Homo sapiens: one gene and its partners. The protein of the gene in region 7 purifies or fractionates together with the protein of the main gene of each other region. This does not show direct contact. Each region holds a gene or a part of one and is shown on either strand. Other genes may lie near its edges. The genes, in order: KPNB1, SDC4, GPC4, NRP1, NRXN3, AGRN and HADHA.

Evidence for each region.
Region 1: the proteins of HADHA (region 7) and KPNB1 fractionate together in Homo sapiens (co-fractionation; one large-scale study listed by BioGRID). This does not show direct contact.
Region 2: the proteins of HADHA (region 7) and SDC4 purify together in Homo sapiens (co-immunoprecipitation; 2 studies listed by BioGRID and IntAct, with this or other methods). This does not show direct contact.
Region 3: the proteins of HADHA (region 7) and GPC4 purify together in Homo sapiens (co-immunoprecipitation; 2 studies listed by BioGRID and IntAct, with this or other methods). This does not show direct contact.
Region 4: the proteins of HADHA (region 7) and NRP1 purify together in Homo sapiens (co-immunoprecipitation; 2 studies listed by BioGRID and IntAct, with this or other methods). This does not show direct contact.
Region 5: the proteins of HADHA (region 7) and NRXN3 purify together in Homo sapiens (affinity purification with mass spectrometry; one large-scale study listed by BioGRID and IntAct). This does not show direct contact.
Region 6: the proteins of HADHA (region 7) and AGRN purify together in Homo sapiens (co-immunoprecipitation; 2 studies listed by BioGRID and IntAct, with this or other methods). This does not show direct contact.

What each region holds. Positions count from the first base shown.
Region 1 is NC_000017.11:47,656,037-47,660,487, reverse strand, and holds part of KPNB1 (importin subunit beta-1), read right to left. Parts: intron 3,629-4,451; coding exon 3,428-3,628; intron 1,981-3,427; coding exon 1,828-1,980; intron 1-1,827.
Region 2 is NC_000020.11:45,330,901-45,335,351, forward strand, and holds part of SDC4 (syndecan-4 precursor), read right to left. Parts: intron 2,170-4,451; coding exon 2,123-2,169; intron 1-2,122. UniProt on the Homo sapiens protein: Cell surface proteoglycan which regulates exosome biogenesis in concert with SDCBP and PDCD6IP.
Region 3 is NC_000023.11:133,310,310-133,314,760, forward strand, and holds part of GPC4 (glypican-4 precursor), read right to left. Parts: intron 1,115-4,451; coding exon 949-1,114; intron 1-948. UniProt on the Homo sapiens protein: Cell surface proteoglycan that bears heparan sulfate. May be involved in the development of kidney tubules and of the central nervous system.
Region 4 is NC_000010.11:33,212,162-33,216,612, forward strand, and holds part of NRP1 (neuropilin-1 isoform a precursor), read right to left. Parts: intron 1,661-4,451; exon of another isoform or gene 1,557-1,660; coding exon 1,225-1,556; exon of another isoform or gene 1,077-1,224; intron 1-1,076. UniProt on the Homo sapiens protein: Cell-surface receptor involved in the development of the cardiovascular system, in angiogenesis, in the formation of certain neuronal circuits and in organogenesis outside the nervous system. Mediates the chemorepulsant activity of semaphorins.
Region 5 is NC_000014.9:78,704,962-78,709,412, reverse strand, and holds part of NRXN3 (neurexin 3), read right to left. Parts: intron 632-4,451; exon of another isoform or gene 197-631; coding exon 1-196. UniProt on the Homo sapiens protein: Neuronal cell surface protein that may be involved in cell recognition and cell adhesion. May mediate intracellular signaling. Functions as part of a trans-synaptic complex by binding to cerebellins and postsynaptic GRID1.
Region 6 is NC_000001.11:1,050,169-1,053,867, reverse strand, and holds part of AGRN (agrin isoform 2 precursor), read right to left. Parts: intron 3,636-3,699; coding exon 3,539-3,635; intron 3,442-3,538; coding exon 3,277-3,441; intron 3,143-3,276; coding exon 3,031-3,142; intron 2,837-3,030; coding exon of another isoform or gene 2,825-2,836; intron 2,616-2,824; coding exon 2,499-2,615; intron 2,416-2,498; coding exon 2,223-2,415; intron 2,141-2,222; coding exon 2,053-2,140; intron 1,876-2,052; coding exon of another isoform or gene 1,852-1,875; intron 408-1,851; coding exon of another isoform or gene 375-407; intron 116-374; coding exon 1-115. UniProt on the Homo sapiens protein: Isoform 1, isoform 4 and isoform 5: neuron-specific (z+) isoforms that contain C-terminal insertions of 8-19 AA are potent activators of AChR clustering.
Region 7 is NC_000002.12:26,234,174-26,238,624, forward strand, and holds part of HADHA (trifunctional enzyme subunit alpha, mitochondrial precursor), read right to left. Parts: intron 2,816-4,451; coding exon 2,682-2,815; intron 183-2,681; coding exon 44-182; intron 1-43. UniProt on the Homo sapiens protein: Mitochondrial trifunctional enzyme catalyzes the last three of the four reactions of the mitochondrial beta-oxidation pathway.

The DNA of each region.
Region 1 (4,451 bases), on a different chromosome or scaffold from region 7:
GGCAATTTTACTTGTCGGTATTTACCCTAAAGAACTGAAAGCAGAGTCTCAAAGATACACATGCATGCCCATGTTCATAGCAGCATTACCCACAATAGCCAAAAGGTGGATGCAAACCAAATGGCCATGGATGGAAGACTAGATAAACAAAATGTGGCATATACATATAATGGAATATTAATCACCCTTAAAAAGCCAATTTTGACAAATGCTACCCCTTAGATGAATCTCGAGGACATCATACTAAGTAAAACAAACCAGTCGCAAAAAGACAAATATGATTCCACTTACGTAAGGTATTTCGTTAGAGTAGTAAAATACATAGAAACTGAAAGTAAAATGGTCGTTACCAGTGGCTGAGAAAGGGGGAAATGAGGAGTTGTTGTTCAGTATGTACAGTTTCAGTTTTGCAAGATGAAAAAGTTCTGGAGATTGTTTCCACAGCAATGTGAATCTACTTAACTAACTATACATTTAAAAATGATTTAAGATGGTAAATTTTATGTTATTCATTGCATTTTCAGCCAAAATGTTTACATATATATTATACATACACATACATATACATATATATATATTTTTTTTTTTTGGAGACAGAGTCTTGCACTGTTGCCCAGGCTGAAGTACAGTGGTGAAATCTTGAGCCTTGAACTCCCAGGCTCAAGTGATCCTCCCACCTCAGCTTCCCAAGTAGCTGGGATTACAGGCATGTGCCAAAGCACCTGGCTATATATCCTGTTTCTTAAAAACACCTTCCTAAGGTGGTATGAAACAGACCAATTGCTATAATTTTTATTTATTTCATTTTTCATTATTTTTTTTCCATTATAAGCCCTGTAAACACAAGAGCTCACAAAACTGGTTAACAACTCAGTTGTTCTTCTCCACAGAAATTTTTTTAGAGACAGGGTTTTGTTACGTTGCACAGGCTAGTCTCAAACTCCTGGCTTCAAGTGATCCTCTTGCCTTGGTGGCCCAAAGTGTTGGGATTACTGGATGTGAGCCCCAGCACCCGGCCTCCACAAAATCTTTAGTACAAGGCAAAAGATTCACACAATCTTAAAAGAAACCAAAGTAAACCAACATATATAGTACATACCATAATTTCTTTCTTTTATTTTTTTTATTTTTTATTTTTTTTGAGACAGTCTTGCTCTGTCGCCCAGGCTGGAATACAGTGCTGCAATCTCGGCTCACTGCAACCTCTGCCTCCCAGGTTCAAGTGATTCTCCTGCCTCAGCCTCCTGAGTAGCTGGGATTACAGGCGCACGCCACCACACCCGGCTAATTTTTTTGTATTTTTAGTAGAGATGGGGTTTCACCATGTTCGTCAGGCTGGTCTCAAACTCCTGACCTGATGATCCACCCGCCTCAGCCTCCCAAAGTGCTGGGATTACAGGCTTAAGCCACATCGCCCAGCCTATTCCTTTCTTTTTTTTAAGGGACGATATCTGACTTTGTTGCCCAGGCTGGCCTTGAATAACTGGACTCAAGCAATCCTCCCGCCTTAGCCTCTGAAGTAGCTGGAGTACCAGTATGCACCACCATGCCCTATAATTTAAAAAAACCCAACAACATTCCACACTTTGGACTGCAAAAGGAAAAACCTAAGCTTAGAAACACTTTATTTCCAAAAGCATGATGAGAAACGGCAAACACTCCATGGGGATATCTCACACAATACGAACTCGACTAAACTGGAAACAAATACTTTTAAGTAGGTGGTACTTTCTAAACCATAAACTTAAGAAAACAAAACAAAAAACTTTCATTCAACTCTTTCATCCCTTACTGTCTGAATCTATACCTTATTGTCAAAAAACTTACCTCTTTATCAAAGTTTGCTTTGGTGAACTCCAATGAGTTCAGGAGTGCATTCGTAGCAGCTAGCTTCACATTATTACTAGGCTCTTCTTTCCTCATCCCCTGGATTATGGCAGTCAGAATCTCATTGGATTTATCTTGTAGCTGCTCTGGGTCCTGTAACAAGCAGAGAAGTGCAATGAATATACAGTCAGCCCTCTGCAGCCATGGGTTCCACATCTGTGGATTCAAACAACTATGGATTGAAAATATTTAGAGGAAAAAAAATGGATGGTTGCATCTGTACTGCACCAAAAGGTGCATGTACACCTTTTTTTCTTGTCATCATTCCCTTAATACAGTATACCAACTATTAATATAGCATTTACATTGAATTAGGTATTGTAAGTATTCTAGAGATGATTTAAAGTATATGGGAGGATGTGCATAGGTTATATGCAAATACTACACCATTTTATGTAACAGACTTGAACATCTGAGGATTTTGGTACCTGAGGAGGGTGCTGGAATCAATCCCCTCCAAAAGACTGCCATAAGGAGCTTCACGACAGAAGCAGTCCTTCTTCTGTTCTTAAGAGACAGGGTCTGTATTGCCCAGACTAAAGTGCAGTGGCTATTCACAGGCACTACCACAATGCACTGAACCCTCAAATTCCTGGGTTCAAGTGATCCTCCCACCTCAGCTTCCCAAGCAGCTGGGACTACAGGTGTAAGCCACTGTGCCTGGCTTAATTGGCAGTCCTTTTAACTGTAAAGTTCACTCAAGAAAGTATCATGAATTGGTGATCTTTCCCCACCCGTTTCCATTTGGGAATAACACTGCAAACCACCTGCAAAATGTCTCATGGTACTGGCAATCCAGAACTGAACAAAACCAAGTCAAACTCATCAACTTCATCTTTGACTTCTTAGCATAATGACTCTGGGTATGAGGTAATATTCGCTTTCCTCCCCACTTCTGTGCAAATGGAGATGGCAGTCTGTTCGTATTTTCCAGGCCATCTGTACTCTAAAGTAAAGCTTCAGGGCATTTAAGGGCCAAGGCCAAGGATCGACACCTAGGCACATCTAGGGAGTCTAAGTCTGGGTCAAGTGCTGTGGGCTCCTTTGCTTCATAAAGTCTATATATTAAAATACACACCAAGAGTGGTAACCTCATCAGGAACAACAGTGCTGGGGGGGCTACATCTAAAATACTGTGTCTCCAGTGGCTAAACCAACTACATCAAATGTTGGCAAAACTTTCCGTAATGTTGTAAATGAAAATGCGCCACAACATTCATGGTACATTCGGGATCTTAAGAAAAAAGACTGGGTCAGGGATAATCCAAATGAGAATATCCTCATTTTGTAAGTCTAGAATCTAAGACTCTTCAAACATAGACTTCTGTTTTCAGTTTGCGATCCTCAAGTTTCTTTACTTTAGGGCATGATTAGCAATGTGAAGACACAGGCCTAAGGGAAATAAATCAGTCTCACTTTCAAAACTGTGCAATTTAGCTTGGCTTTCTTCGTGATTCAATAAGGTAGTACTAATATCATTGATGTCACAGCTAGAGGCAATCAGAGGTATATAAACCAGATACATTAGGCAAGCACTTACTATATCTTGGCAAATATAACCGATGGCTTCCAATGTCGACTCCTTCATGTGCTCTGTGCTGTTGGGGTTTGTGACATTGGCCACCAGCTGAGGAATGAGTTCTGGCCACTGGTTTACTGGGATCTCTGCACAAGCAATACCAGCCACACACTGTGAGGCAGAACTAGGCCGGTAAGTTTCTGTACCCAATGTCTGCAAAACCTGCACCAAAAAAAAAGACAAAAGATACAAATTTCTAACACTATTTGACCACATTTTGCCCACCACCATACTTATATTAGTGTCTCTGAATTCTTTTTTTTCTTTCTTTCTTAAGACAGGGTCTCACTATGTTGCCCGGACTGGAGTGCAGTGGCACGATCACAGCTCACTGTAGCCTCAATCTCTACGGTGCAATCTATCCTCCCGCCTCAGGCTCCTGAGTAACTGAACTACAGGGGTGGATATGCTGACATGCCCAGCTATCTTTTGTTGAGACAGGGCATCACCATATTGCCCAGGCTCAAAAAAAAAAAAAGGAAAATACAAGGCCTCAGTCAGTTGTCCAGGGTGGAGTGTAGTAGCAAAACGATAGTGCAATGGCACAACGATACTGCAGCCTTGACCTCCCAGGCCTCCCTGAGTAGCTTAGACTACAGGCACATGCCATCACACCCAGCTAACTTTTTTGGGTTTTTAGTAGAGATGGGGGTCTCCCTATGTTGCCCAGGCTGGTCTCAAATTCCTGGCCTCCCAAAGTGCTAGGATTACAGGTGTGAGCCACTGTGCCCAGGCAGCTGTCTCAGAATTCTTTTTTTTTTTGAGACAAAGTCTCGCTCGTGTCCCCCAGGCTGGAGCATGATGGCGCGATCTCGGCTCACTGCAACCTCCGCCTTCTGGGTTCAAGCGATTCTCCTGCCTTAGCTCCCCCCAGCAAGTAGCTGGGATTACAGGTGCCTGCCACCATGCCCGGCTAGTTTTTGTATTTTTAGTAGAGATGGGGTTTCACCATGTTGGCCAGGACAGTCTCAAACTCCTGACCTCA
Region 2 (4,451 bases), on a different chromosome or scaffold from region 7:
GCAGTTTTGCCCTGGAAACTCTATTGTAAGGAGCTCTTCAGAGACTACGTGTAAAAGATGCTTGCTGCAGCTCCTCTGCCTATGAAGTAGCCATTCTTTTATTCCTTTACTGTCTTAATAAACTTGCTTTCACTTTACTCTATGGACTCACCCTGAATTCTACCTTGTGCAAGATCCAAGAACCCTCTCCCTTGGGGTCTGGATCGGGACCCCTTTCTGGTAACATCTTTCTGGAGAACCACAGAAGGGATGAGACGGAGGAGACTCCCGAATCAAAGGAAATGGACTGCAGCACTGATTGGAGGACTTTGGATATCACCTTTTGTCAGAACTAAGAGTTATGAATGGCCCTCACCATACTGGCCCTTTCTGACTGAACCCCTCTCTACCATGGATACAAGAGGCCCTAATAGTTAAGCAGGAATATCATCACCCTATTCAGCATGAAGAAGTTATAGAAGATGGATCTTTGTCCCTCTGCAACCCTTAGGATTAAGGGTTTTCTTACAAAAGGGAGGGGGAAAATGTCAGGTGTTTGAACCAGAGTGCCTACATCTTGAATAGGGGCTGGGTAAAATAAGGCTGAGACCTGCTGGGCCGCATTCCCAGTAAGTTAAGCATCCTACGTAACAGAATGAGATAGGAGGTCTGCACAAGATACAGGTCATAAAGACCTTGCTGATAAAACAGGTTGCAATAAAGAAGCTTGCCAAAAACCACCAAAAACAGGATGGCAATGAAACTGTTGGTCTCACTGCTCATTATATGCTAATTATACTACATTAGCATGCTAAGAGACACTCCCATCAGTGCCATGGCAATTTACAAATGCCCTGGCAAAGTCAGGAAGTTACTCTATATGGTCTAAAAAGGGGAGGAGCCCCTAGTTCTGGGAATTGCCCACCCCTTTGTTGGAAAACTCATGAATAATCTACCCCTTGCTTAACATATAATCAAGAAATAACCATAAAAATGGGCAACCAGCAGCCAATGCCACTGCTCTACCTATGGAGTAGCCATTCTTTTATTCCTTTACTTTCTTAATAAACTTGTTATTGCTTTGCAAAAATAAAAAAGATGTTTGCTGCAGTGTTATAATTTTAAAATGTTAACAAATTATAAGCCATTTTTCCGTCAATAAAGGGAATCAGGTAAACTATTACGCAGCCTATAAAAATGACAAGAGCATTAAATTATGCAGGGAAATACTCATGACCAGTCTAAGTGAAAAACGCAGTTCATAGAATTATATATATATACTTTTTTTTTTTTTTTTTGAGAGGGAGTCTCTGTCGCCCAGGCTGGGGTGCAATGGTGCAATCTCTGCCCACTGCAATCTCTGCCTCTCAGGTTCAAGCGATCCTCCTACCTCAGCCTCCCAATCAAGTAGCTGGGACTACAGGCGCACGCCACTGTGCCAGGCTAATTTTTTGTATTTTTAGTAGAGATAGGGTTTCACCATGTTGGCCAGGCTGGTCTCGAACTCCTGACCTCAGGTGATCTGCCCGTCTTAGCCTCCCAAAGTGCTGGGATTACAGGCATTAGCCACTGTGCCCGGCCTATATATATACTTTTCTATCAATGCTAGGAAATAGCTATAAATGTAGAGAAAAGGAGTTGGTGTTGACGGTGACTATCCCTGCAGGGAGGATGGCCTACCAGCAACCTACAAAATGAGCCTGGGGCCAGATTTGTTTGTTTGTTTGTTTGTTTTAACACAGTCTGGCTCTGTCACCCAGGCTGGAGTGCACTGGCACAATCTTGGCTCACTGCAACCTCTGCCTCCTGGACTTAAGCCATTCTCCCACCTCAGCCTCTCAAGTAGCTGGGACTACAGGCACATGCCACCACACCTGGCTAATTTTTGTATTTTATGTAGAGACAGGTTTCATCGTGTTGCCCAGGCTGGTCTTGAACTCCTGACCTCAAGCCTCCCAAAGTGCTGGGATTACAGGCCTGAGCCACCATGCCCACCCCAGGGCCAGATTTTTAAAAAGCCTTCCCGCATAGTGGGGTAAGACCCCTCACTTATTCTGCCTATGGGGGCTGTATTTTCTGCCTCTCCCAATAGGTCTGCTATAGAGGAGCAAAGTGGAAGAGGCAGAAGCATGTAGCTACTTACCAAGGGATGGACAACTTCAGGGCCGATCATGGAGTCTTCCAAGTCATCTGTAAGGTCAGAATAGCTGTGTGAGTGAGGTCCATTACCCCAGGAAAATGACCCCTTCAGCCAGGACTGGTGGGAGCTCCACCTTACAACCAGCTTCCAAATGCTCAATGTCCAGCAAGCGAGCTTCCCCACCCCTACTTCAGTCATCTCATCTGTAAAATGGGGCTCCTCAGACCCACCCCCTGGCTCTTTCACAGGAATGTGTGAGCTGGCAGCTGGGCAGAGGCTTCATCAGCTCTAAACCCTTGCTCTGCAAAGTGTGGATCCAAAAACCAATAGCAACACCTGAGAGCTGGTTAGAAATGTAGAATTTCAAGGCCAGGCGCGGTGGCTCACGCCTGTAATCCCAGCATTTTGGGAGGCCAAGGCGGGCAGATCACTTGAGGTCAGGAGATCGAGACCAGCCTGGCCAACATAGTGAAACCCCGTCTCTGCTGAAAATACAAAAATTATCCACGGGTGATGGCACGCGCCTGTAATCCCAGCTACTTGGGAGGCTGAGGCAGGAGAATCACTTGAACCCGGTTGGCAGAGGTTGCAGTGGGCCAAGATGGTACCACCGCACTCCAGCCTGGGCGACAGAACAAGACTCCGTCTCAAAAAAATAAATAAATAAATTCCCTCCATACGTATTCCTAAATACATTTTTCCCAATAATGGGCTCGTAACAATATATCATTAACATCTTTCCATTACAATGCTTAAAGAGTTACATTATTATTTTAATTACTTCTATTCAATGAATTTCATTTATTTTCAATAGTCTCTTACTGTTGAATGTTTAAAATGTTCTTATCTAAAAATATTGTCATGATCAGAAAACATTAAAGCTAATATTTCACTTATTTAAAAAGAGTAAAAATAATTCATTGGTTAAAAAAAAAAGAAGAAGAAATGTAGAATTTCAGGGCTGACTGAATCAAAATCTACTTTTTTTTTTTTGAGACAGAGTCTCTCTCTGTCGCCTGGGCTGGAGTACCGTGGTGCCATCTCGGCTCACTGCAACCTCTGCCTCCTGGGTTCAAGCGATTCTCCTGCCTCAGCCCCCCGAGTAGCTGGGACTACAGGGGTGCACCATGACACCCAGCTGATTTTTGTATTTTTAGTAGAGACGGGGTTTCACCATGTTGGTTGGCCAGGATGGTCTCGATCTCTTGACCTTGTGATCCGCCTGCCTTGGCCTCCCACAGTGCTTCAATTACAGGTGTAAGCCACCGCGCCCGGCCAAAATCTACATTTTAACAAGATCCCCAGGGAATTAACTTTTGAGAAAGAAAACTCTAACTGCAATATTAAAACATTTCCTGGGCGACTATGTGAGATGATGGATATATTACTTAACTCCACTGTAGTAACATTTTTACTATCTATATGTATCCCATAATATCATGTTGTATGCACATAATGAAATTTATTTTTTTATTTTTATTTTTTTTCAAGACAGAGTCTTGCTCTGTCACCAGGCTGGAGTGCAATGGCGTGATCTCAGCTCACTGCAACCTCTGCCTCCCGGGTTCAAGCAATTCTCCTGCCTCAGCCTCCCAAGTAGCTGGGATTACAGGCACTCGACACCACACCTGGCTAATTTTTGTATTTTTAGTAGAGACGGGGTTTCACCATGTTGGCCAGGCTGGTCTCAAACTCCTGACCTCGTGATCTGCCTGCCTTGGCCTCCCAAAGTGCTGGGATTACAGGCATGAGCCACCGTGCCCGGCCATAAAATTTATTTTTTTTTTAAACCAAACACACACGTACTGAGTGCTTGGTAGGTGCCAAAAGCTTTAAGTCAGTTCAGTCCCCACAACACTGATGTACTATCTTTATTATTCCCATTTTACAGATTAGAAAACTGAAGCTCAGTTCACACAGGATGGAGGCTTGAACTCAGGACCATGTGACTCCAAAGCTAAAACTTGCAAAGCTAAAACTTGCAATCATTAACACCTCTCTGCACATAGGAGGGACACTTATTAGCTGTCTGGCCTAGAGGCCTTGGGCCCTTCACCCGCCCCCACCCCCACTGAAGCAGGGACTTGTTCTTGGTTTCCCAACTACATCTCTGCCCACTCATGCCCCCTCCCACCCCATCCCCACTTCTAAGCTGCTACTTTTCCTTTTTTGTTTTGAGACAGGGTCTCACTCTGTCACCCAGGCTGGAGTGCAGTAGCATGATCTTGGCTCACTGCAGCCCCAACCTCCTAGGCTCAAGGGATCGTCCCACCTCAGCCTCCCAAGTAGCTGGGACTCCTACAGGTGCATGCCACCACATCCAGCTAATTTT
Region 3 (4,451 bases), on a different chromosome or scaffold from region 7:
GTTTCTTTTTGTGAGCTGTTAGTATGTGTGTGCGGTCCTACTAATACTCAGCATAAGGAACTTCAACACTGGTTACTGTTGCTTCAGGCATCAAGGTAATTGACAACTGGACATTTAAATTCTCCTTAATTTGTCCTTTCCCCAAAATCATAACTAACCCTCTCTGCAATTGGCCACTTCATTTACATTGCTGTCTGGGTTCTGAGAATGGTTTTCTAGGTGGAATATATATGCAGGAATATGTATCCCTTAAATTCTCAGGGCTAAAGTCCTTCCACTCTCACCAGAGCAGACTACTACTGCTAAATGGTGTACAGAAACAGAATCCCTGAATTTCTCAATCAGATTTCACCTGATCCAAATAACAAATGCGTATCTGGCCGGTTTGCAGAAGATTTAGTTGCAGTGTAATAGATATAACATTTTAAAAGCCACTTTTACAACTCCATGAGGACTGTACTCCAGCATTTACATGGATACAAGCCTATAATCATAAACACAACTGACTTTCAGGCGGGAAATATCAAAAAGACACTTTCTCAGTGAGTGGCTCATGCCTATAATCCCAGGGCTTTTGGGGGGCTGAGGGTGAGAGGATCGCTTGAACCCAGGAGTTTCAGGTTACACAGAGCTATGATTGTGCTGCTATACTCCAGCCTAGGTGACAGAAAGAGACTCTGTCTCCAAGAAAAAGGCATTTTCTCATTATTAAAACCTGGCAGCCACTGTATCTATTACCTTCAGAAATGCCACCATTAGTTTGAGGGAACATTCACTTGCAGTAATGTTTTTACTATTCTCAAAGTAGTTGAGCGTAGTCAGGATTCTGACAAACACTAAATAGCAAACACTTAAACAAACAAATTTCATAGCTGCCAATTACAACATTCCTTGTGACTGGAAGCTAAGCTATCTCCAGCAACACAAATATGTTAACCACTTGCTCACCTATGAAATTGTTCCATTCAAAATCGAGATCCCCTTGGTTGGCCAAACAGCCTCTCATGATGTTTGAGCAGTAGTTGTAACATGGCTTCACAGTCACGAGACCCCGGCAGTGGGAGCAGTAGATCATCTTCAACAGGGCATGGGTACACTGGGCTGTGGGGTTTACCTAATGTGTGAAAAGAAAAAAAGACAGTAGTGGCGGGGCTAAAATAGAGACAGAAATTGCTTCTATCACATTGACACTGAAGGCTTGGCCATGAACTTAAGAATGAGTTGTGATTGATCACAATTAGTAAGCCTGGACTGCCTCCTGAAGACATAGATTAGATAAAAGATACATGTTGGGACAGGGGAGAGGAGGGAGATGACCCAAAACAAACAAGGTGCACCAACTCCCACCCTGTAAACACCCATTCCTCCCCCACCCCCTTCCCTCCTGGAGTCTCTCTCTCACACACACATAAATTGCTCAATTATCTCAAAATCCTTTTACAAATAACTATGCAGGGTGAGCCATGAGATGCAGTGGAGGAGACTATCTTCATGTGCCCACCATGCACGTCCTGCTAATAGCCTCAACCATCAGTGTTTGTCTTTGCCAGACTGGAACAGAAGCACATCTTCTTCTGCATTACATTGACTACAAGGCTGTCCTTTGAACCCTAACCCCAAATTAAGGTTTAGAAGGGTACCTACGGTGTCTTCTGTTCTGTGCCAAGAGCTGTGCAGAAGGCAAAGTTAATATATTCTACAAGGCAGAATATGAGTAATCTTAAACTTAGGGGGTGTGTGAAGGTTTTCCAAGGCTTGGGAGTACTAAAGCACAGAGTGTTCACAGAACACTTGATGAAAGAGGTGGGGCTTTGGTTAAATTTTCGAGAAAGGGGCTGGACTTAAGTGGTCAAACAAAGGGAGAGCATCCTGAGTTAAGTTCAATGAAATGAACAAAACCTGTAGGAGAGTACAGGACATGTCACTGCATCTCAGAATGGGGTTGGGGAATTGCGGGAAATAAGGTCAGGTGCACAGGAGTATGCGTGTGGCCAGAATTTAGAGGGGCTTAAACATCAGGCAGAAACTGGGATACCAGTTGCCAGGCACGGTGGCTCACGCCTGTAATCTCAGCATTTTGGGAGGCCGAAGTGGGCGGATCACAAGGTCAGGAGTTCGAGACCAGCCTTGCCAGCATGGTGAAACCCCGTTTCTACTAAAAATACAAAAATTAGCCGGGCATGGTGGTGTGTGCCTGTAGTCCCAGCTACTCAGGAGGCTGAGGCAGAAGAATTGCTTGAACCTGGGAGACGGAGGTTGCAGCGAGCCGAGATCTCACCACTACACTCCAGCCTGTGTGACAGAGTGAGACTCTGTCTCAAAAGAAAGAAAGAAAGGAAGAAAGGAAGAAGGAAAGGAAAGGAAAGGAAGAAAGAAAAAGAAAGAAAGGAAGAAAGGAGAAACAAACAAACAGGGACACCATATGGCAGGACACATGGGGCTATGACTGGAAGTTTGTGAGGAAGGAAAGGAAGAAAGACAGAAACATTACCCAAGTCAGATTGGGCTGGCTGTCCTCTCCAGAGAAATGGGACTTCATTTCATCTAGTTTTATAAAGTGAAATTATTTGGGGTGTAGAAGAGCTGATTCCATCCGGTCACTTGTTTTCCTCAATGCTTAGAAAGGATTGGGGCTAGGTATAGCATTCTAGCAGCTAATTAAAAGTTCCTGTCTCCTCTTTCTCTCTGCCCCACCCTCCTCTTTTGGAGTCAGTATCAGAGGATTAGTGCATTCTTCTGTGTAAGTACCCACCAGTTCTGCTAACACAGACTTTTGGAGGCAGATACCACCACAGGGAAGAGATGCTGGGATGCAGGGCAGCCCGGCAATGCACTTCACCTGCTCTGGAGTGTTACTTTGGATATCACTTATCAGCAGTGCCCTTAGGAACAGGAACAGGGGATTAGTGGTGTCAGGAGAAAAAAAACAGTCAGGCTCCTACGTGATGCATGTGCACATCCATTCCCCTCATCCCAAACAAGGCTCTAGCCTAAAAGGGGGGAATACGTGTAACAATAAAATGGTAATTGTATACACTGCCCTACCAAGAATTAAGATTTTTCCACAGTTTTAACCATTCCCAAATGTTTTCCTAGGCACTAAATTAGTCCTAACTATGTATTAATGTACAGTAAAATTTTGGCTAACCAATATACCCTGGAGGAATGGCCTTTTCTGGATAGCCAGATTTGCTGGACAGCTGAAAGTTCATTCCTTTAAAGTCACAGATTGTTAAGACTTCCCTACATGTCCCCCTCTCCTTTTGTAAAGGAGCAAACAGGACTGGAGGGGGGAGGTGGCCTGAGAAGCATAGGATCACAGAAGTCTTAGAGTTGGAAGGGACCAGAGAGATCACTGAGTGTTGCTCTCACATTTGATAGATAAGAAAAACCAAGCCAAAGCCAAAGAGATTAAGCAACTTGCTGACAGTCACCTCACAACATCGGATTCCAGTACTATACCTTATCAAGCATTTGTGATGAAAAGATTTCCCAGATGTATCACGTTTCCCTGCCAGATGACAGGAAACTGTAATCTTAGGCACTGGTTATTTCCTACTTTAGTTTTAGTTGGGTTCCACATTGATGAGACTGCAAAATGGCTAGATTTTAAAGAGGTAAAAGTTATGCAAGTGGCTATGAAATGAAAAATCACTGAATAGCACGTGGCATTTGTTGAATATTATGCTTAAGAGGAGACAATGCCCTCGTAAGAAGAAACGTAGAAAGCTAAGGGGTCAACAAATAGTTACTGAGCACCTACTATGTGCCAGGGATTATTCTGGAATGCATTTGAATTTAGGTAACAAGGCAAGTTAAGAATTTCTATATTAGAATACAAAACCTGTTCTACAAAATACAAAGCAATTCCAATGTGGTACAGGACTTTAGGAAATGAGCAAAAATTTTAGACCCAAAATAGTTATATTCAGAAAACACTTCTTTTTTCAAAGAAGTCCTTTCTCATTCTTTTAAAAAATAACTCTAGGAAGTGGTTCATTGTATTCTTAGTTCAATTGCAAGTCAAATCATTTATGCAACAGACCTTGTAGTACCCTCCCCTAAAATAGGCTGATGGAGGCTCAAGTTTTAAAAAGAGACCAAACTAAATGACACAGTAGAGTTTTATTAAGGGAAATTATGATGCTGAGTTTGGCAGAGTTCTTCCATTTCATTATTTGGCTAAGTGCTGGCTCATGCTCTGTACATGATTTGTTGTGTAACTACTAAAAATGGTCACAGGCAACTCAGCTACAACATGCTAGGGAAACACTAAATAATACCAGAACTGAAAAGAGAGATGAGGAAGTTATAAGAAAAATGGAAAGAGAAAGGACATATAAAATATCAAAGTTAGGAAAAAAAATCTGTCTTTTGTCTCATAACCACTAGTCAGACCACCATGCACTATTTCACATGAAGGGAATTCAGAATCTGGGAAGCAAATCCGT
Region 4 (4,451 bases), on a different chromosome or scaffold from region 7:
GATTTCCTTTTCTTTTCACTGGATTATCAAGAGCCTACTGCATCTTAAAAGGTTTCAACGCATAAAGAAATATACTTAAGCATTATTCACAATAGCTAAAGGTGACAGCAATTCAAGTGTCCATCAGTGGCTGAATGGATAAACAAAGTGTGGTATAAACACACAATGAATATTATCCAGCCTTTCGAAGGATGGAAATTCTGACACAATGCTATAACACTGATGGCCCTTGAAAACATTATCCTAAGTGACATAAGCCAATCACAAAAAGACAAATACAGTATGAGGTCCCTAAAATGGTTGAATTCACACAGACAGAAAGTGGAGGTGGTCACCAGAGGCTGGGGGCAGGGGGACTGGGAGTTGTTGCTTAATGGGTGTAGAGTTTCAGTTTTGCAAGATGAGAAAGTTCTAGAGATTGGTTGCACAATATACACATACTTAACACTGTTGAACTGCACACTAAAAAGGTTAAGATGGGAAATTGTATATTATATGTATTTTATCACAATTAATTTTTTTTTTTTGAGACGGAATCTCACTCTGTCACCCAGGCTAGAGAGCAGTGGTGCAATCTCAGCTCACTGCAACCTCTGCCTCCCGGGTTTAAGCAATTCTCCTGCTTCAGCCTCCAGAATAGCTAGGACTACAGGCACACGCTGCCACACCCTGTTAATTTTTTGTATTTTAGTAGAGATGGGGTTTCACCGTGCTGTCCAGTCTGGTCTCGAACTCCTGAGCTCAGACAATCCGCCCGACTCGGCATCCCAAAGTGCTGGGATTACAGGCATGAGCCACTGAGCCTGGCCCACAATAAAAATTTATAAAAGAAACAAAGCACTTAAACTAGGGGTAGGTTTGAGATGGGGGGAGGGCAGACCCAAACGACTGAGTGGTATCTGCAAGGGGTTCTGAGCGCTGGCTGGATGGCTGCTGTCAGCCTTGGGCTTCCCCGTCTCCTGTCTGCATGTTGAGCTGTCTGTCCATCCCTACAGCCAGGGAATGGGACCAGCAATGCAATTCTTTTGCATGTTATCTCAGACATCACTTTTCATGCCATATTCCTGTCTTCCTAGAATCAAGGGTCTTACTGACCCCATCACACACCTCCTCTAATGTCATGGCTGGAAGGAAATAAGAAGCCCTTCCTCGGGAGAATGCCAGAGGCCCTTGATTGAAGTCAAGGACATAAGGGATGACCTCCTCCCAGTCCCCAGCCCTCACCTTCGCCTTGCGTTTGCTGTCATCCATGATCATCTTCCAGTCCGAGCCGTTGTTGCTGTACCCGATCTTGAACTTCCTCATGAACACCTTGTTCTCTCGGTGCTTCCCACCCTGAATGATGATGCCCCTCACGATCTTCTCCTCCCCCAGGTCTATTTGGAGCCACTCATTGATGTAGGAATGAGGTGCGGGTGGAAGTGCCCAGCCAGAGCGACTGGTTACCAGGCGGATGTTTTCAGGCATCCAGTTTCTGTCCCCTTGGTTGGATGATGTGATCTGGGAGTCAGAAATAAGTCCAGACACCATACCCAACATTCCAGAGCAAGGATAATCTGGGAAGTGAAATGAAACAGATAATGTAAAATGATTTCCTGGGCGACTCCATGCTAAGAAATAAAATACAACATATGGAATAAAGACATGATTTTGTACCCAATCATATACAATTTTCAGTCTCTGGATTATTTTACAGTAAATCTTTCCTCCCTCAAACCTTCCTCCTGCTCTGTCAGAATTCCCGTCTCTAAACTCACATCCCAGTAAGGCAAATCTTCAATAAGAACATACATTTCCCCCGCTTTGACATCTTCTAAGTTTAACATTCATATTTCAGTCTCTTTGGTATCCAGAATTCATCCCTGGATCAAGTACTGGCCCTGCTTAAGAGAAGTTCATAGTTTATGATGGATTGGAGATATGCATAGAAGTCAATCCGATAGCAGGAAGGTTGCTAAAACAAAGGTAAAGAGACAGTGATGCAGAGGTAAAGAGAACGAATGCATACTCAGCCTGCAGAGGTAATAGAGGACCTCCCAGGGGAGGTGGCATTTGAATTGAGTGTGGGAGAATAGTGACCATGATCCCCCACAACTGTTCTCCCCACCCCTATTTCTAATTGCATTGGGGACTTTCCACATGAATGTCTCACTGTCATCTCAAATGTACCACAAGCAGACTAAGACAGTCCTTTCCCCTGGATACTGCATCTTTTCACTGAACCCTGTCTTTTAATTGGTGGCATCACCAATCATCCACTTCCTGCCTAGTCATCTCGTCATTTCCGTTTTGCTGCCAAATCCTGTTGTTTTTATTAAGTACAAGAAAGCAACAGAACTCTTGTTGCTACCTTCCTTTCTTCTGGATTTATCCTGATCCGAGCGCTCTGGCCAGGGTGCTACATCAGCTCTTGGTTGGCCTCCCAGACCCCACTTTGAATCTCCACTACACCAACTGCTACTTAAATTTTCAGAAAATGTTGTTTTAAGCATGTCATTCTCATCCTCAAAAATCTCCACTGCTAAGTGAAAGAAGCCCAACAAAAAAAGGACAAATATGGTCTGATTCCATGGATAGGAGTAGCCTATCACTAGATCAGTCAGATTCGTAGAGACAGAAAGCAAAATGGTGGTTGCCAGGGCTTGGGGGAAATGGAGATTGGGAGAGTTAGTGTTTCATGGGTGCAGAGTTTCAGTCTGAGACAATTATAAAATTCTGGAAATAGTGGTGATGCTTGCACAGCAATGTGACTGTACTTAATGCGACAGAATTGTACACTTAAAAATGTACAATGATAAAATTAAAATGGTTAAAAGTGGTTGAAAATTGTTAAAGCGGTAAATTTTATGTTATGTATATTTTACCCCGACAATAGAAAAGAGATATCTTTTGAAAATGTACCATGGTTTTCCATTATTGATAGGAAGATATCAAAACTCGATCTGGCATTCAAGACCCTCATTTTGACTTCATCCCATTTGCCTAATTTGATTTTCTATTACTGACAATACATCTCAGTTAAGCAATTCTCTTCTCATACAGTCTAGACGTCATCCTCATCATTGCCTTTGCTCAAAACCCAGCTTAAGACTCATGAAGAGAACTTTTCAAGCTACTCTAGCTTTTATTCTGAGCTCTCCCTTCTCAGAAATATGATGTAAGTAGCACAGAGCTCAGCATTCCACTGCTCTCTAAGGCTTTAAGATTGTTAGTCATGTACCCACAGCTAGATTATAAGATCTTCAAAGGCAATGAACAGCATCATAGACCTTTTTATGTCTTCTAAAGCAGCCCAAGGAGCTTCTGAGCACAAGGAGAGTATCAGTTGTTGATGAATTCAACGCTGGCTTAATGACAAAATGTCCAACACTTCAAGTATTTTCCTTTAGAAACTGTACATCCTAATCAAGAACATGTGCAAGAATGATAACCTATTTTTCTTTGAAGCAACTCAATTCTGCGTTATATAATAAAAATTTAGCCTAAAAATATAACTACCCCTAAGTGAGAGGCAAACATCTAATGCAATTAAACTAAGTCCACATTATCAGCTGAACCTTAAGAATTCATTACTCAGATACTTTCCACATGAGTTCTATGGTCCAGATCATGTCGTTTCTTTACTCAGACATTCAGTGCCTTCTTGTCTAGAAATTACGCACGTCATTTTCAGTCAGGCATGCAGGCCTTCCATGTCATGTCCTTGCAAGGCCTCTCCCCATTCACTCCTTTAACCAGTGCCAATTGGCATGAAGAACTTCCTTACTTCTGGGAGTTTGGGAGCTTTCTTTCTGTTCCCTCCACAAGGAATTCCCTGTCATGTTACCCTTTTCCATTATCTGAACTGCTTAAAATCCTGACCTGTTTTCAAATGCCACATCGTTTACTCAGTTTTTCTGTTCTCTGCAACTGGACACAGTTTTCCATTTCTGGGCCTCTTCACACCATTTTATCTGCATTTCCCTTCTTTCTTTCTTTCTTTTTTTTTTTTTTTGAGAAGGAGTCTCGCTCTGTCTCCCAGGCTGGAGTGCAGTGGGGCGATCTTGGCTCACTGCAAGCTCCACCTCCCGGGTTCACGCCATTCTCCTGCCTCAGCCTCCCGAGTAGCTAGGACTCCAGGCGCCTGCCACCACGCCCGGCTTATTTTTTGTATTTTTAGTAGAGAGGGGTTTCACAGTGTTAGCCAGGATGGTCTCGATCTCCTGACCTCGTGATGCCTGCCTCGGCCTCCCAAAGTGCTGGGATTACAGGTGTGAGCCACGGCGCCTGGCCCCTCTACACCCCGGCCTTTTTTTTAATTTTTATTTTTAGAGACAGGGTCTCACTCTGTCACCCAGGCTGGAGTGGAGTGGTGTGATCATGGCTCACTGCAGCCTTGAACTCTTGGCCTCAAGCAATCCTCCCACCTCAGTCTCCTGAGTAGCTAGGACTACATGTGGATGCTACCATGA
Region 5 (4,451 bases), on a different chromosome or scaffold from region 7:
AGGAGATGGAGCCCATACGTTTAGTGTTCCACTTGGGCAAGCTGATGTAAGCCTCTGGGGTCTCAAAGTTGATGGGGTCCAGTGTGGCCACATTCTCACACTTAAACACAACTTCGCCATAGATTTTCATCTTGGTGTCCGCAATCCGGGCCAGGCGAGACAGCTCCAGACGGATGTCATTATTCTTATAAACAACCTGTCAAAAGCCAAACAAAAGTGCCATGTGAATCAATCTTGCAAACAGTATCCATCCATCACTCACTGGGCACCTGGAAAAATGACCCAAAAAGAGGCTTCAGGACATAGCCCAAAACAACATGAGAAACAATGAGACACAGGAACCAAAAAGGTATCTGAAGAAACATCTGATGTGCACACAAGCTCCAAAAAAGCCTCTATATTTCTACAGAATTTCTTTTGTCTCCTGGCCAATTTCTTGTGTTGTCAGAAAGTTATACAACATAAGCTTGCAAATAAAAATCAAGAGAGATCGAGTTGCATGGATTCACATACTTCATACAAAGTGATTTACTGAAGCACCCTTAGTAAAATACCAGAAACAACCTAAATGACCATCAATAGCAGATGGCACAGCGTTATAATGGAATATTAGGCAGGCCTTGCAAACAAGGTATTGCTTTTGGTTTTGATGTGGAAGCTCTCCAGGTCACATTGTTAAGTGAAATTGTCAAGGAACAGGATAGAGGGTGCATTATGTTATCATTGTGTAAAAGTGTGGGGGCGTGGGGGCATTATATGTATATATGCTCCAGTAAGCATAAAGTCTCTTTGGAACTATAAAATTGTCATTGGGGAGTATATTTGCGGGATTAATATTCTGGAGTGGGAGGGTGACTTACTTTTCACTGTGCCCTCTTACAGTGTTAGACTTTTTTTCAACCATGTGGATATATTACTTGAAAGAAAAGAGTAAGTGTTAAAAGCTGGTGGGGACAGAGGTCTGTTTTTGTTTTTATTTTTTGCACATTGCATGTGCCCTCTGTACAGTGGTAGAATGAGACACCCTGAAGCCCTATTTCAGCCAGTCAGTCAAGGACATTGATTTAGTTGAGAGTCTGATTTTACAAAGAATACTGAACCAGATACTAATTCACCTTGCAAGGGGGTCCAGCAGAGCTTTCTGCCTCCATGCCCTACCCAAGGTTAGTGTACACTTCTGCAAAGCCATGGCCACTGTCCTGCAGAGTGGGTAGGTAGGTGGAGAACGTGAGGATGGCAGTTAAAAAAATCTGTTATGACTGTCTAACAGCCACTATGGAAAACAGTGTGGAGATCCCTTAAAGAACTAAAAGTAGAACTACCATTTGATCCAGCAATCCCACTACTGGGTATCTACCCAGAGGAAAAGAAGTCATTATAAGAAAAAGATACTTGCACAGGCATGTGTATAGCAGCACAATTTCCAATTGCAAAATTGTGGAACCAACCCAAACGTTCATCAATCAACAAGTGGATCAAGAAAATGTGATATATATATATGAATACTACTCAGCCATAAAAAGGAATGAATTAATGGCATTTGCAGTGACCTGGATAAGACTGGAAACTATTATTCTAAGTGAAGTAACTCAGGAATGGAAAACCGAACATTGTATGTTCTCACTGATATGTGGGAGCTAAGCTATGAAGACGCAAAGGCATAAGAATGATACATGGACTTTGGGGACTTGAGGGGAAGGGTGTGATGAGGGTGAGGAATAAAAGACTACAAATAGGGTGCAGTGTATACTGCTTGGGTGATGAGTGCACCAAAATCGCACAAATAACCACTTAAGAACTTATTCATGTAACCAAACACCACCTGAACCCCAATAACCTATGGGAAAAAAATCTGTTATGACTTTCTAAACCAGGTATAATCCATCTAAAAGCAGAAATTAATCTTTCTCCATGAAATTAGAATTTCAAAAAAGTTTTACTCTTATTTGAACTGAAATTTGATACAGTACCCTGGAATGGTTTTTGGCGCTCTGATCTCTGAGCAATGTCGTATCCATAAAAACTTAATAAGCAGAAAACAATGGAAGGGAAATAGACAAGGATCTGAGTATTGAGCGTCCCAACTATTTTCCTATTTTCTTTATATTACCTTATTCAAATTCTAAGTCAGGACCCAGATTTAGGTTTGAATTCCACATTTACTACTTACAAGCTATGTGACTTTGGCAAAGTAAATTTTCTGAGTCTGTTTCCTCTCCTGAAATTGGGAACATAGGAATAAACAAACTATTTATTTTGTAATAATAAAATGATTTAAAACATGTGAAGCACTTAGGAATGCAATATCATAAGGGCACAAAAGTCGCAGCTATTTGGAGGGTTATTGTTAATCTCATTTCGCTATTTCCACAGCCCTGAAAAGGTTGCATTATCATCTCCAAAACAACAATGGCTAATTTCTAAAATAAGCCTCATCTGTCCATATCTGTGAGACAAAGTTAATTGGATGGGTCACTCCAGCACATATCATATAATCCCCAATATTTAAATGTAGAATTAGTTCCCATCTCTCATCACCAGGAGAGAATCAAGCAAAGCTGTTTGCATTCTAATGGATATTACAAGAGTGATATATAACTATGGCGAAGCATTGAAAATGACTCACTATTATGTAACCTTGACCGTGGACCTAACCATAGTCAATAACATTGAAAATAATGATACTAACACTTATTAAGCACCTACCACCAGGCACCATGGTAAGGATTTAACACCTCTCCATCCCATTAGATACAGACAACACCCATTTGAGATACCTGTAATCATTGCCTTATTTTACAGATGCAGAAACAGACACAGAGAGCAGTTAGGGAACCGGCCCACAGGCACACAGCTGATAAGTGGCAGAGCAGGACTTGAACCTAGGCATTTGGGCCCCAGGGTCCATATGCTCAGAACCAGGCCCCACTAGCAGCACCTGTGAGGCTTATCTTTAACATTACATGGAAAGTCATGCATGCTCAACTTCACAATTCAAAAGCTGAATTTTTCATTTTAGCTAAACTGGGCTGACCATGTGCAAAGGGAAATATTGCAGGATCCTCAGGCAATCACTCAAGTGAGTAAACCAGAAAAGAAATCATAAAAGTTTAATGAGTGTCAGCTTCTCCTTTCTAACCTTCACTATTATACCTTAGCATGTGAGAACTCTTTGTCATAAACAAACTTTGGCTTTTTCTGCATTTGGGTTAAATGCCTGTGACTAGAGTTCCTAGTAAAGGTTAATTATTAATGTATAACAATAGGTCATCCCAAAGGGACAGAAGGAGGTTTGGCTCCATGGAACAATAAATAGAAAGAGAGATCAGGCATTGCTACAGCAGGCTGGGGACAGAATAAAAAGGAGGGAAAAAAAAGCCTTTTAACAAGATACAAGAGCAGTGAAGAGGAACTCTTCTGTGAGAAGGGTACCTAACTGAGACTGGGAGAGAAGGTGAATAGCCGGAATGAAGATTTCTGAAGACATAGGTAAGAGAAGCAAGGGCCAGAAACTGGCCAGACAGAGATAACCAGACTTCTCTCAAAGGCTCTTTGAGGGTGAGTGCTCTATCTACTCCATGGCCCTGAAATTACCTGTCTATTTATATGGAGTTTTCACTGTTGTGAATAAAAAGCCAACACCACTCTCACTGACAGCTGAATAACCCTTCTGAGTCCCATTTTATTTATTCCAAAGGTAAGAGCCTCGATATCTGTTCCACAAACTGTCCCTCTTTCCCAGCTCACAGGGCTGTTGTCAAGATCAAGTGGGATGTTAGACATAGTAGGACACAGACAATTCTAAACCGGCACACAAACCTAGGAAGAAATAATCCTATATCTTCATCTCCCATGGTGTTGGGGTTCTGTTGGAAATGGATAGGGTCCTGAATTGAGGTTCTGTGAAGGTTTATCTACCAAGAGGAAAAGGACAGGAGGGCAAGGGACTTGTAGCCCAGTGATGCTCAACTGGGACTCTCCATTGTTAATATCTTCACCTTCCCCACCTGCTCTGTGCAGAACCACAGCCACAGCCACGCAGAAGTGTACTGGCACCCTGGGTCAGCATGGAGGCAGGAAACCCTGCTGGACCCCCTTACAAGGCAAATTATTGTCTGGTACAATGTTCTCTGTAAAATCAGACTGTCAACTAAATGAATGTCCCCAAATGGCTGGCTGAAATAGGAAGAGATGTGGCATCAAATGACAGAAAGCAGCCTTGGCTGACAAGTCGCCTCGGTGAGGAGCAATTAAAGACAAAGTAGAAACGGCTCCCCATGGGGGAAGATGTCACACAGACTGGGAGGTACAGAAGCAGAGTCACAAACAGTGACAAGCTGGTCTTACTATCCCACCCATGGGCTTGTAAAGACTGCTGTTTGGACACGTGACTCATGCTTAGGAGACCAGACAGTAAAACAGCTGAGGACAGAATCTCAAAGTTAAGACAA
Region 6 (3,699 bases), on a different chromosome or scaffold from region 7:
GGCCAGTGCCACATAGTCTGCCCGCTCCGTGGCCTTGCCACTCCAGAGCACCAGCCCCTGCGTGGCCTCAGTGCGCAGGCTCAGTTCAAAGTGGTTGCTCTGCAGTGCCTTCTCGCTGGAGGGCAGAGGGCAGGTCAGGGCCTCTAGGAAGGTGGCAACAGGACAGGGTGGGGGAGGCGGGAGGACAAGGGCCCCAGCTGCGGAGGCCACAAGGGCTGTGACGGGACCCAGGGGTGGCTGGTGGGCAGACACCGACAGTGGGAGGGAGAAGAGGGATGGAGACAGGGGCAGCCTGGCAGAGAGAGATCAGAGAGACGGGCGGGAGGACAGATGGGCCAGCCAGGGGTCTGCAGGCACTGCTGCCACGTGCTCACCTGTGAAGGGCCCCGGAATCCAGAGTTTCGGGGCTTAGAAGCAGGAAGAGAGGGAGGCGGGTGAGCAGGGGACAGGCGGGGCCAATGCAAACCCATCTCAACACTGTGGGGTGCAAGGAGCAGGCACCCACAGAAGACATGCGTGACCTCGAGGATCACTGGCCGCCCACCAAAGAGCCCAGCAGGGACACCTACACATGCTTGTGCGGACACGAGACACGTGAGGGTGCAGACACCCACGTGCAGACACGAGACACTTGAGGGCACAGACACCCACATGCAGACACCCACGTGCAGACACCCACGTGCAGACAGCAGGGGAGCACAGCCAAGGCTGGGCGCAGAGATCAAGGAGGTAGGCGTAGGGTGGTATGGAGTGGAGACCAGGGGCTTGGATGCCCCAGTACACACATGCATGTGTGCATGCACGCAAACCTACACACGGACACACACACCCCTCCATGTTCACACACATACACACGTGTACACGAACACACACAGACACACCTGAGTGCTCCCCACTTACACCTGTTCATACACACACACATCTACATATCCCCCCATATATACACGCATATACACGGACCCATGCACACACTCGGACACACACCTGTCTCCCCCACATATACACACACATACATGGACCCATGGACACACACTCGGACACACACCTGCGTGTCTCCCTCATATACACACACATACATGGACCCATGTGCACACACTATACACACATGGACCCATGCACACACACTCGGACACACACCTGCGTGTCTCCCTCATATACACACACATACATGGACCCATGTGTACACACTATACACACATGGACCCATGCACACACACGGACACACACATGCATGTCTCCCTCACCTATACACACACATACATGGACCCATGTGCGCACACACTCAGACACACACCTGCGTGTCTCCCTCATATACACACACATACATGGACCCATATGCACACACACACACACGGACACATACCTGCATGTCTCCCTCATATACACACACATACATGGAGCCATGCACACACACGGCCGCATAGTCACACACGCATATCTACATGTCCCCCCCACATATACACACACACATATACATGGACCCATGCACACACACAGCTGGATATTCACACACACTTGCACATCCACTCCATATACATAGACACGCACAGACACAGCTGCATGTTCACACACGCGGAAGTGCACACGGACACAGACATGCATGCATATGCGCACAGGTGTGTACAGCCTCAGTGGTGGGGGTTGGCTGTGGGGCGACCCTCGGCCTGTGCCCTGGGAGGGGCGACTGCACTTCTGAGGCAGGAAACGGCCTCTTGCAGCCAAATAGCGCCGGACCCCCATCCTCCGCCACAAGGGATGGAAAGTTCCCCGGGGGCTCCGGACTCTGCTCCCCACCAGGAAGGATGGAGGAGTGGGAGTGAGAGGGAGCGGGGGGCGCCGAGCTCTACTCACACGGGGATCTCATTGGCCAGTTCGCTTGGAAACAAAGAGACAGACAGTGAGAGGCGGGAGGACCGGGAGGTGAGAGAGAGGCGGGAGGACAGAGGTGGCAGCACCGGGCCGTCCCCTCCTGGGCCCTCCTGGTGTGGGGGTCCGGTGTCCCGCCCCGAGGGCACAGATGGAACCGACAGCCAGCAGAGGATGGCACGTTACCTCTCGGTCACAGCGTTGAGGTACTCGACAAAGGTCCGCCCGTCAAAGGCCAAGGTATCCACGTCCCCCGCTGACTTCTCCACCAGCCCTGTGAGATAGGCAGGTGAGGGTGGGGCCTCGTGGGCTCCGGGCCCATCCGGCCTCCGCCCCCTGCCCTGTGCCAGGCTCACCCTTCTCGCAGTGCGGTCCTGAGAATCCCCCGGGACACAGGCACACATAGGCAGCCTCCCTCGGGACGCAGGAGGCCCCATTGAGGCAGGGGTGGCCTGAGGCCCGGGTGCAGGGGTGACCTGCAAAGGACGTGACGTCCACCTGCCGCAGCACGTGCTCCGGGGTCAGCAGCTGGCGGCCTCCGAGGGAGACCTGCAGGGCAGGGTGAGGGCCTTGTCCCGCCTGCCACCCCGCCCGCCCCGGAGGCCCTGCTGGGACGCCCCGCCCCCACATACCAGCTGGATGGCACCGTCGAAGCCAGAGGACACGGCAGCAGCACGGGCCAGCTTGCTGAAGTCGGGAGCGCCCCCTACGTAGAGCGGCTCCTTCAGGTTGAGGACGGTGTGCGGAACCTGCGGGGACGCCAGGTAAGTGGCTGTGCAGAGCCCACCCACGGTGCAGACCCAGGGCCCAGGCACCTGCACGCACCCGCCCCACCCGCCCATTGCCTATCTAGGGGGCAGCGTTAATCACACAGAAATGGCAGGGTCCTTAGTGGGGGAGGAGCTACCCTAGGGGTTGAGGCGCCAGAGACGGTGAGCGGATGAGAGGCCGACAGTACCTTGCGGGATTTCTGGCCTCCGAAGAGCGGGTGGGGTTGCAGAGCGAGAGCAGAGAGCAGGGAGGCAGAGGAGGCAGAGGACAGGGCAGGCGGCCAAGAGAACAGGACAGAAAAACAGCTCCGTGAGCGCCGGCAGGGGCGGGGCTGCCGCCCGAGGAGGAAGAGCAGGCAGCAGCGGGAGTCCCCTCGCGGCCCAGAGCACTCACCGGGGACTCCCCCAACACACGGGGGCCGTCGCCCACACGCAGGGCACCCTTGCGGCCGTTTCGCTCCAGTGAGACCCTGGTCCAGGCTCCCAGGGTGACTGGCTCCCTGCTCCTGGTGAGGAGGGGCAGCGTGAGTGGGCTCTGTCCACCACCGGCCACGCGACCACCCAGGGCCTGAGCGACCTGCTGGTGCCCCGGCCCCGGGCCAGTGCCCCAGGCCTCCCAGAGCCACCCTTGCCGGCCCACCTGATGACCGCTGCCCCCTTGCCCAGGTCGTAGCGGAACTCCAGGCGGCGGTCCCGCAGTGCCAGCGACACGAAGTCCCCCTTGCCGTCCGTCTTCTGCCCGTTGTAGAGCAGGAGGCCGCTGGGGCCTCGTGCCAGGAACACGACCTCCAGCGCCATCTTCTCCCTGGGGTCATGGGGAGTCGGGGTGTCTTTGCTGTCCCCTCCCCACAGGAGAGACGGAGGTGGGGGCCGGCCCTTCCCCCTGCTCCTGCCCCACCGACCCCAGGTCCCGTGCAAAGGTGTGCAGGCCTCTCAGCTCCAGGTGGGAGAAGCCGTTGAAGTCAGCCAGGAAGGGCCCAGAGCCGTCCTGCCCCGAGGCTGTAGGGAGAGTCACCAAGGCCTCAGTCCTGACCCCCGGGGCCTCCTGCACCCCATGCCAGCC
Region 7 (4,451 bases):
CAATGAGTTGGACAGTGTCTCAATAACTTTAGAATATCTATACCTCAAGTCCTCCTCCCAGGCAGGATCCATTGATGGCAGCCACAATAGGCTTTGTGGACTTTTCAAGTTTCTCAACTATTCTCTGTGCTTCTTGTGATAGCTGTGTTACTTCTTGAAGGGTCTTGCAAGCGGCTAACATGCTGCATTATCCATAAAAGTAGAGAACAGAGAAAAAGATAAAACTATAATTTATTTGGTTCAATACTTATTCACTATACACTTATCCTATCATGCATCAATATTTGATGACAAATCTTCAAATAGAAGGTTAAGAATGATTTTGCTTCAAATAGCACAATAGCAGCAACATCATTTCTCCATAAAGAGTGTTAAACTTCTGGATCCATGAGACCATCCCGGCTAACACGGTGAAACCCCGTCTCTACTAAAAATACAAAAAATTAGCTGGGCATAGTGGCGGGCGCCTGTAGTCCCAGCTACTTGGGAGGCTGAGGCAGGAGAACAGTGTGAAACCGGGAGGTGGAGCTTGCAGTGAGCCGAGATCGCGCCACTGCACTCCAGCCTGGGCGACAGAGTGAGACTCTGTCTCAAAAAAAAAAAAAAAAATTCTGGATCCAGAAAACATAAATGTGTTGCATAATTTATTTTTACTTCTGTAATAAATCATTAAATTACAAAGCTTGGTACAAGGGAAAATCATCTTTGGTAAATTACTTCACTATCAGATTAAACATTTCACTATCAGGTAGTTAACAGCAATAAAAATGACGCAAAAGAAAAGCTTCCAGGTTGTTTAGAGAAATCTAAAACATTTTAACAGATCCCACTAATGAATAAAAATGACCAGGTAGGCCAGGCATGGTGGCTCATGCCTGTAATCCCAGCACTTTGAGAGGCCAAGGCAGGTGGATCACCTGAGGTCAGGAGTTCGAGACCAGGCTGGTCAACATGGTGAAACCGCGTCTCTACTAAAAATACAAAAATTAGCTGGGCGTGGTGCTGCATTCCTGTAGTCCTGGCTACTCGGGAGGCTGAGGCGAGAGAATCACTGGAACCTGGGAGGTGGAGGTTGCAGTGGGCCGAGATCGCACCACTGTACTCCAGCCTGGACAGCAGAGGGAGACTCCGTCTCAAAAATAAATAAGTAAATAAAAATGATCAGGTGCAATGATGTTCCACTCAATGTCCTTTAATTTCAGTTTGTTTCATTTGCTATTTTGTGAACACACTTAGGATATGGATTTTGTACTTTTGACCAAGGATAACTAGTATATTCTGTAATTTTATACACTGAGAGTTGCTCAGCTGGCCTCATAGAAGCTACATGTATTTTCCTCTGGATATAGGTAGCTACTGCCAGGTACATCAGTGTCTTGTTAGACTTTATAAATGTTCTGTTTAATGTTAATTTTTTAGAAGACCCAAAATTATCTTATCAAGTGGTTTTTCTTCTAGCTGAATTATTTGTGCCTAACAAGAGACTGATTACTACACATAAATAATTACACTTTCAGTACAAATTACTAAACCTACAATGCTGGCTATCATTGTCTAAAATACAAAGAACATAACAAATACCCATATTTTAATGGAATTGACAACTTAACATTTTAACCTATTAAACTGACACTAAAATATCATTTCCCCTCCTTATGTATGTGTAAACAATTGTAAATAAGTTAATGTAGGCATGCATTCCACCATTTAGCAGAGGAAAAGAAAATACTAGCTGCATCTGTAAAGCTGCCTTTAACAATCAAGTCCTACCACCCACTTCATTTCCCCAAAGCAGCCATCTTCATGTTTGTAGTGTCTCCTTCCAGACCAACTACGATTGTGTCCATAAATAGTATCAAGAATTATTCCATGTTTGGTTTTAAAACATTTATAGAAACTATATACTGTATGAAACATTCTGCAATTTGCTTTTCTTTTAACTTAACCTTATGTTTTTGAGTTCTAACATCATATTGTGGATCTAGTTAATTCCTTTTACCTGTTTTGTAGTATTCTATTGTGTGAATAGTCCACATTTTACTTACCCATTTTCCTACTGACTGACATTTGGTTTTAAATTCTTCATTATTTCACACTACACAGGACCAAACATCCTTGTACACTGGTTCTTATAAACAAGGGGTGAGATTTCTCTAGATCACATGATGTGTGTGTGTGTGTGTGTGTATATATATATATATATACTCTGTGTGTGTGTGTGTGTGTGTGTGTGTGTGTGTGTGTGTGTATATACTTTTTTTTTTTAAGACAGTCTCACTCTGTCACCCAGGCTGGAGTGCAGTGGTGTGATCTCGGCTCACTGCAACCTCTGCCTCCCAGGTTCAAGGGATTTTCGTGCCACAGCCTCCTGAGTAGCTGAGATTACAAGCGTGTGCCACCATGCCTAATTTTTGTATTTTTAGTGGAGACAGGGTTTCACCATGTTGGCCAGGCTGGTCTTGAGCTCTTGGCCTCATGTGATCCACCTGCCTCGGCCTCCCAAAGTGCTGGGATTACAGGCAAGAACCACCACACCCAGCCTGATACGTACATTTTCAATTTTACAGGCCTGTGTCACTGTGCCCAGCACTTCTACTTTCTTTTAAAAGGAGAAATTATTAGGCCTAAGAAACACACTATTAACCAAGATAAAAGGTGACTTCAAGTTTCCTAAAACTTACTTGATATCAGCACCTGCAATAAAGCAGCCTGGCTTTGATGAGATAAGGACGGCACTTCTGATTTGATCACTAGCCCAGATTTCATTCATAACTTCTGAGAACTCTGAATGTAGCTCTTTACTCAGTGTATTTACCTGCCAAAGGGAAATATATACAGGTAAGGGTTTAAATTTGAAGCACTGGATGTACGTACCACCATCAAATGCTATTTTGATTATAAGAAATATACTTATCCGGCAGAAATATACTGTTAGAAGAGAGTAAGAAATATCATTCTCCCAGCAAGTCAGTAGCTTTCTATTCAGGCAGCTTTGGCCCACTACAAGCACCCCTTCCTTTAAAAATAGGTCTTCTCAAAGGAGAAACTCAGGGTCATCCTCAGAGTTTGAATCATATGTAGGCTATAAACAAATAGGTCTACAAACATTTATTGGCATGGAAAAAATCTGCATAATGTTAAGAAAAAAATGAAATACAAATAAGACATATAGGCCAGGCATGGTGGCTCATCCCTGTAATCCCTGCACTTTGGGAGGCCAAGGTGGGCGGATCACTTGAGTTCAGGAGTTCGAGACCAGCCTGGGCAACATAATGGAACCTTGCCTCTACAGAAAATACAAAAATTAGCCGGGCCTGACAGCACACGCCTATAGTCCCAGCTACTCAGGAGGCTTAGGTGGGAGGATCACCTGAGCCTGGGGAGGCTGAAGCTGCACTAACCTGTGACTGTGCCACTGCACTCCAGCCTAGGCAACAGAATGAGACCCTATCTTCAAAAAAAACCATATAGTATGATCTTAGTTTTGTAAATATTATTCATTGAAACTGAATTAAATGTGATTATCCCATGGAAGATACCAAGAAAAAGATGTGGTTATCTTTAGGTTTGAATTATGAATGTTTATTATTTTCTTCTTTATAATTTTTTATAGTTGAAAAATTTTCTACCATTGACATATATTACTTTTGTGTTCAGGAAAAATGTCCAACCTAAGAAAATTCTGAAAAAATATCTTAAGCTTGAATCATTGGTTAGTGAGTGCTAAAATTTACTCTAGTAAAGGGGAATGGCTCTTATTTACCTTAATTTGTGATAGTTGTCAACTGCTTCCATCTAGGTCTTATTACATCTAAGCCTCTGGCTATAAGTTTGTTGTTGTTGTTTTTTAGAGAGACAAGGTCTTGCTCTGTGGCCCAGGCTGGAGTGCAGTGGTGCAATCATAGCTCACTGTAACCTTGAATTCCTAGGCTTAAGTGATCTTTCCACCTCAGCCTTCAGAGTAGCTAGCACTACAGGTGAACATCACCATACCCAACTATTTTTTATTTTTTATAGAGACAAGGTCTTGCTATGTTGCCCAGGGTGGTCTCAAACTCCTGGGCTGAAGTGATCCTCCTGCCTCGGCCATCCAGTGTTGGGATTATAGGTGTGAGCCACAGTGCCCAGCCTGGCTACAAGATTTTTAAAGTAAGAATACACCAAATTTAGATGGGGGAAAAGCATGGACTCTCACAATAAAGCTCTTCTTGGCAAAAGAATGGATTACTGTTACACACTTTATTGAAGCTGCCAAAAACAAAAGAAGTTTCAATTCGAACAGAACTTGATTTCCAATATGTGAATTGCATTGAGTCATTCAGATCCCTCAGGAAGCTTAAGAGCCAAGTATCCACATTTCACTCAGCCAACTTACTATGAATAGTGACTTATGTCAGGCAAGTAATGAAGAAAATGGATTAACAACCTCATATTTAAGATGGGTAGGCAAA